2 separate regions of the Homo sapiens genome follow, and region 1 is linked to region 2. The links come from fine-mapping of genetic effects on plasma protein levels. A gene starts in region 2. The other region holds a variant in brackets. All regions are shown on one strand. Distances are from middle to middle. Region 1 has its middle 1.7 kb from the start of MIR4708. Region 2 holds the start of FUT8 (fucosyltransferase 8).

The links. PIP is the chance, under the fine-mapping model, that this variant and not a neighbour inherited with it causes the effect. Protein levels are from antibody-based Olink assays in UK Biobank. Linkage for the fine-mapping came from a reference panel and not from the study's own genotypes, which makes the PIPs less certain.
Region 1: its variant is fine-mapped to the plasma level of the FUT8 protein (UK Biobank, PIP above 0.99).

The regions. Positions count from the first base shown.
Region 1 is chr14:65,332,023-65,334,937 of GRCh38, reverse strand. No RefSeq gene overlaps it. Among named protein-coding and RNA genes, the nearest start is that of MIR4708, 1.7 kb to the left of the region's middle. The variant T/G (reference allele first, on the strand shown) is at 1,335.
Region 2 is chr14:65,412,502-65,415,408 of GRCh38, reverse strand. FUT8 (fucosyltransferase 8) reads right to left here and starts at 2,679. Exons shown (of 11, transcript NM_001371533.1): 1 at 2,195-2,679. It overlaps FUT8-AS1 (FUT8 antisense RNA 1), which reads left to right and starts at 2,792. Exons shown (of 1, transcript NR_024334.1): 1 at 2,792-2,907. RefSeq lists an enhancer at 1,374-1,938 and silencers at 1,861-2,050, 2,061-2,180, 2,481-2,640.

The DNA of each region.
Region 1 (2,915 bases), 80 kb after region 2:
TAAGGTCACACAGAGTCGTTGCTCAAATTTAGGAAGGAAACCCACCTAGTGTGAGGTGGGGCCCCAGGAGGGGCATCTGAGCCCCAAGAGAGCAGCTCTCTTTAGCCCCTGCTCTAGTTTCTTTGCAGTTCTCCTAAAGAAGTTCACCAGCAAGGCCATTTACCAGACACCAGGGAATCAGGCCACTTTCAAATGTTGATAGCATTACGCTTGCCAGAGGAGAAAGGGACAAGTGAGGAGACTGAAGACAGTGCTTTCAAGAAAAAGAAGAAAAAGATATTGAATGTGCACTCGCTAAGCCAAAAAAGCAAATGCCAGGAAGAACCGTGAGCCTTGTTTGAAGCCAAGTCTGCGCAGAAGAGTCCCAGGTGTAGGGAAGGAGGAGCTGAGGTGGTCTGAGGACGCACAGCAAATGCCCTGGGGGGTGGGGCGGGAGGAGAGAACATATTTTAAGCAACCTTAAAAGACTCGTTTTAGCATTCCGCAGGAAATGAAAAGCAGATGTGTTGGTTTGGAACTTGTTTACATATTTGGCCTCTGAGAAGCTTCCAGGACAGTTAGGACTGGAGAGAAGGGGTATTTTAGGCAAATGCTATAGTCTCCACTTGGAGAGAGTGGGGCCCTTCATTGGCTCACCTGCTTCCTGAGAAGCAAGCATTTAGGCTGAAAGACCATCATTGTCCCTAAGACAGGTCTGGCTAGAATAAACCAGGATTTGATATACAGAACTGGTCTCCTTGTACCTTCTTACAGAAACTAAGGGTTGTTGCACCTCCTCTCTTGCTTTCAAGTCACACCCACTGGGCAGAGAAGTGAAATCAGAGGCCTGGACATTGGGAGGATGATGGGATGGTTCACACCAAAGGTCCTGAGATTTGCAGAAGGCTTGTTAGAATACAGATTACTGGGTCTCACCAGCTCAGCCGAGCTAAGATGAGGCCAGTGGCTACACACTGGAATCATCTGGAGATTAAAATAGACTGATAGCTGAGCCCTGTTCCCACAGATTCTGATATTAATTGGTCTGGGGTGTGACTTAGGCATTTTTTAAAAATTATTTTTAATATATAATAGAGAGGGGGTCTTACCATGTTGCCTAGCTGGTCTCAAACTCCTGGCCTCAAGCAGTCCTCCTGACTCAGCCTCCCAAAGAGCTGGGATTATAGGCGTGAGCAACCATGCCCAGCTGACTTGGGCATTGTTTAAAGCTCTCCAGATAATTATAAGGTATAGCCAAGGTTGAGAACCATTGAACTATTTATCTTTTACCTGCTCTCATCATTCCATCCCTAGATTAACTTCAATTTACCTTCATAACATGTTCACAAGGTGGT[T/G]AGGACCACAGGAGACCGTGGGATCTAAATTAGGCATAAACCTGGATTTAGAGAAGGGGCTAAAAGAATATTGCTCTCAGAGACATCAACTATCAAAAAATCTATGTAAATGCAGGCAATTCCCCTTTTTTGTAGTATGTCCAGGAAATGGCGCTCCTTAAAAGATATTTTTTAGTTGCTAAGGGACAGGAAAAGTAGCAATCTTTAACACTTATTGAGCATTTATTATGTGCCAAGTACTCTTCCAAGTGCTTTCATTTTAAATTAATTTAATTTCCACAACAGCTCAATGATGTTGGAGCTGTTATTTTCCCCATTTAGCAAATGAGGAAACTGAGATACTAGGAGATGAACTAATTTGTCCAAAATCACACAATTAGTCAGTGGTAGAGCTGGCTTTCAAATTTTGGTGTGCCTCTGAATTACGGAGACTACGGAGACTCCGCTGAGAAAGAAAAATAGCTCAGATCAGTCTGAGCTATGTGAAGTATACAAAATTTATCAAGCCTGGAGAGACAGGAGTATGGGACTTCAGTCACATCTCTGCGCCCATGTCCAGGGCAACTGTGTAAAGGCATTTTGTTCCTGCTTAACTGCCTTACCCATTATCTTCATGTTGGAATTTGTGATGCAAAGAATAACACATACCCAATCAATAGCTTATGTTATTTTAGTATAAATTCTTGGTAAACAATTTAGGAGCTGCCTCTTCTTTATTCCTTAAAAATCCTCTTGTAGCTATTTCTAATCAGAGTGTGGGTTTAGGGCAACTTGAATCTATGCTCTTGGGTGGCCACCCTCAAGCTTTGAGCTTGAATAAACTTGAAGCCATCTTCACCATGTTAACAAGAATTCTGGACAGAAATATAGTTATGATTAAGCATTAATTAGGCTGCACTGTGGCTCACTTCCTTGTAACAACAGGAAGTGAAAGTTGTGGAGTACTAGATCCTGACCACTTGCATCCTCATTGTTCCTACAGATAGTATTTCTGTCTGAGGTTAGAATCATCAGGCCTCTGATTAAGATAGATAGAATCTCTGACATTAGAATCATAAGGCTTTTGTTTAAGAATTGCTTAAGATGTTTTTCAGATCCCAAATTTGAGCTGATGCCAACAAGTTTGAAGACCCCCAGAGGAGAGCAGAATCAGCATGAGAATATAGTTTCTTCATCTCCCTGTTCTATGACTTCATCCTGCACCCTTGGGCCAAGCAAAGATCTCCACACTTCAGCCCACTCCAAAATCACTAAAAATTCTAGACCCAAATTCCTTGGAGAGACTGATTTGAGGTTTCCTCCCATCACATTCAGCTGCCCTACAATTAAACCTCTTTCTCTCTTGCAACTAGGTGTTTCAGCGTATTGACTTGCTATGCACATTGGGCAATGAAACGATTATGGTTACAAACTCTATATTTAATCATCTCTTCAGAATCTCATTAATTTAGGTTGTGAACCCCAAATATCTGAGACAGGTCTCAATTTAGAAACTTTATTTTTTCAAGGTTAAGGATGCACCCGTGACACAGCCTCAGGAAGTCCCATGACATGTGCCCAAGGTGGTCGGGGCACAGCTTG
Region 2 (2,907 bases):
GCATTTAGCTTTCCATTATTGCAGCGCATGAAAAGACTTTTTTAAACTAATTTGTAATACACAATATATTCACTCCACAAATAACTATGTACATATATATGCCCACATCAATTTCCTACTCTTTTAATTAAAAATTTATGTTTCTTTTGGTCATAAAAATCTGGTTTTGGGTGTTTTAAAAGTTCAAACAGCTATTAAGCTATACTTTGCTTTGGCACTAGCTCCCCCTCCAGACCAATGTACTAATATAACAGCATTTTTAAAAATAATAAGTTAACAGTTTTTTCCAATCCACTGGCAAATTTTAAGATTCACCACTTTTAAGGACACTCCAATTGCGTAAAAATAACTGGTAAGAATTTGCAACAAAACAATGCAGGATGTAATCAGAATTAGTTTTGTTTTGTTTTTTTCGATTCCATACATCTTAAACAGAACTGATTTGTAGGAAAACAACTTCAGGTGACTTTTTAAATTCAAAAATATCCTCAAAATATAACCTATATAAGGCCGTACTTTATGGAAATTATTTTGAATCACTATCCTATTACACAAGACACTCTTCAAGTTAACTCACAACTTGACCAAAGATACATTTTTGCATCTGTTTCTGCAATCTATGCAAGTTTCATTCCAGCTGTTCAGCTCTTGAATTCAAATAGAATTCTCAATTTATAAGGCAGCAAAAAGAAAATCCATGTCTTGGAACTACCTTTGTACGTGTCTTATAGCCTATTCATCTCTAACTCCCTGCATTTTTTACACACTAAACCTGTGAAATCACAATTACAAATGCTTGAATTCCCACCTTTTCAATACTACTGTAGTATTTACAAATCAAGTAATTAAGATTTTCTATACACATACCAGATTTCACAAGGACAGCAAGGTACAGGGCCTTATTATTTGGCATAGGGTTTTAAGATGTTTTTACAGTTATTTTAAAGAGCAGAGACTACAACTCCATTATTTCTCATATATCTGATATACTGTAGTGCTTAAATAATAATTTCTCTCCTAAAATACTTTCTATATGATGCACCTATTTAAAGAATTAGTCATAAAACATAGAATGTAAATTTAATCAAGAAAATAAACATGCACCTAACCGCCGGAATAACAAGAAAAAAAAAATCTATAATGAAACCTGCCTACAGTTTTCATAGAGGCAAGCCAGTTAAGTCAGTTACTTGAGATGCGTTTAACTCTAAACTGACACAAAACTTGTGTTGAATTTGTTCCGCAAAACCTTGAAATTTGGGGTTATGTACTACAGAATTTGGCTTTTCTGGGTCCACCTTCCTGAGTGGGTTTAAATAAACTGTGAATAATTAAAACATAGGAAGGAAAAAAACACCACCTGTCCGTGCCTTTAACCAAGGCCTCAATCTATATATTATATGGCAAAATGCTAAAATAAAAGCTCATCCGGGACAAACCCTAAGCATGACACTGCCACTTAAGAAATACACTGCGTCTCTGAAGATTGCAATCCCCACTGTGAAGAAAGAACAGGTGCTGCACCCGACAACCCACTCAATCCTGCAGGACAAACCTCCTAGAACTGATAAATATGGACTCATTTAACCTTCCCAAATAAGTTGATACTCAAAAGCCGCCAGCTCGTCATTTGCACATCAAAAGGGAGTACAGCTGCACTCAAGCCTTTAACTGCCCTGCATCAGTCCCTCGCGGATCTTTGTGAGGGTCCACTCCCTGCTTTCTAGCCCGAGCAGCACTCAGAAAGAGCCCATAACGCACGGGCATCTTCCTCCCCACAAACCGCGACTCCAGGGACCGAGCTGCTGACGAAGGGAAGGTAGGTGTGGAGGGGAAACGACGGACACCTCCCACCCCCGCCCCCAACCCTTCTCCTTCCCTAGGCTTTGGCCCCTGCCCTAGGCAAGGATGCGCGACGCCGAGGGCAGCAGCGGCGCAGCTCCGCGTCCCGGCTGGAGAGGCGGGCGCCCCTCACCCTCTGCCCGCGCCCCCGGGGCTGCGCCAAGGCATCCGCCAGAGCGTCCCGGGGGCTCCCTCCCCACTTTTCCGAGAGCCGCTGGTTAACCGGCAGCAGTTGCAGCAACAGGCCCGGGTGAACGAGCAGGGACAGCCGCGGAGCCTCCTCAGATCCCGCGCGCAGCCCAGCCCAAGACCCCGAGGCGCGCGGGGCCCGGCTCCCAAAACGCCCCCTTACCCCAGGCGGGAGCAGAGGCGGTCTCCGCCGCTCCCCGTCGCAGCTGCCAAAGCCACAGCCCTCAGCCGCAGCTGCCCCACGATGGGGGAGTGGGAAGGGTGGCTGAGTGGAGGATGCTACTCCCGACCGAACGGAGAGGAAGAAACGGAAACAGGAACCGCCGCCGCCGCTTAACGGAGCCTTCGGCGCCACTGACTGAGGCAGAGCGCGAGGCGGCGCGAGCCGGGCAGTCGCTGACAGCGCGAGACCGAGAGCGAGCTGGGTCCAGGGCGCGCGACCCTGAGCAGTGCCGGCCCCATTCCGCGGGGAGACGAAGGGACGGGTCGGCTGGGGCCAGGCGGCGGGGGTGGGATGGGGAGGGGGCCTGGAGAGGAGGGAACCGGCTGCTCGGGTCGGCCGGAGATAACGCGCGCACGCGCCGGAGCGGCTCTGACAACGAGCGCAGGCGGGGAAGCCTCGGCCAGCGCCGGCGTGCGCGCGCGAATGGGGGAGCGCGCCCCTCGGCGTTCCTGGCTTCTGGGAGAGGGCGCGCATGCGCCGGCCGCTGCCACCTACGGCGACCCTGGCATGTGCCAGGGATTCTCCCCGCCCCCTTCCTCGCTGCGCCGGTGGAGAGCGTAGCAGCAGCATCCACCGCCTAGCAGAGCCGCGGGCCACAGCGGGACGGCACAGTTCCAGCAGGGCAGCGGCTGCGCACGCCGGCTCCGGCTCGC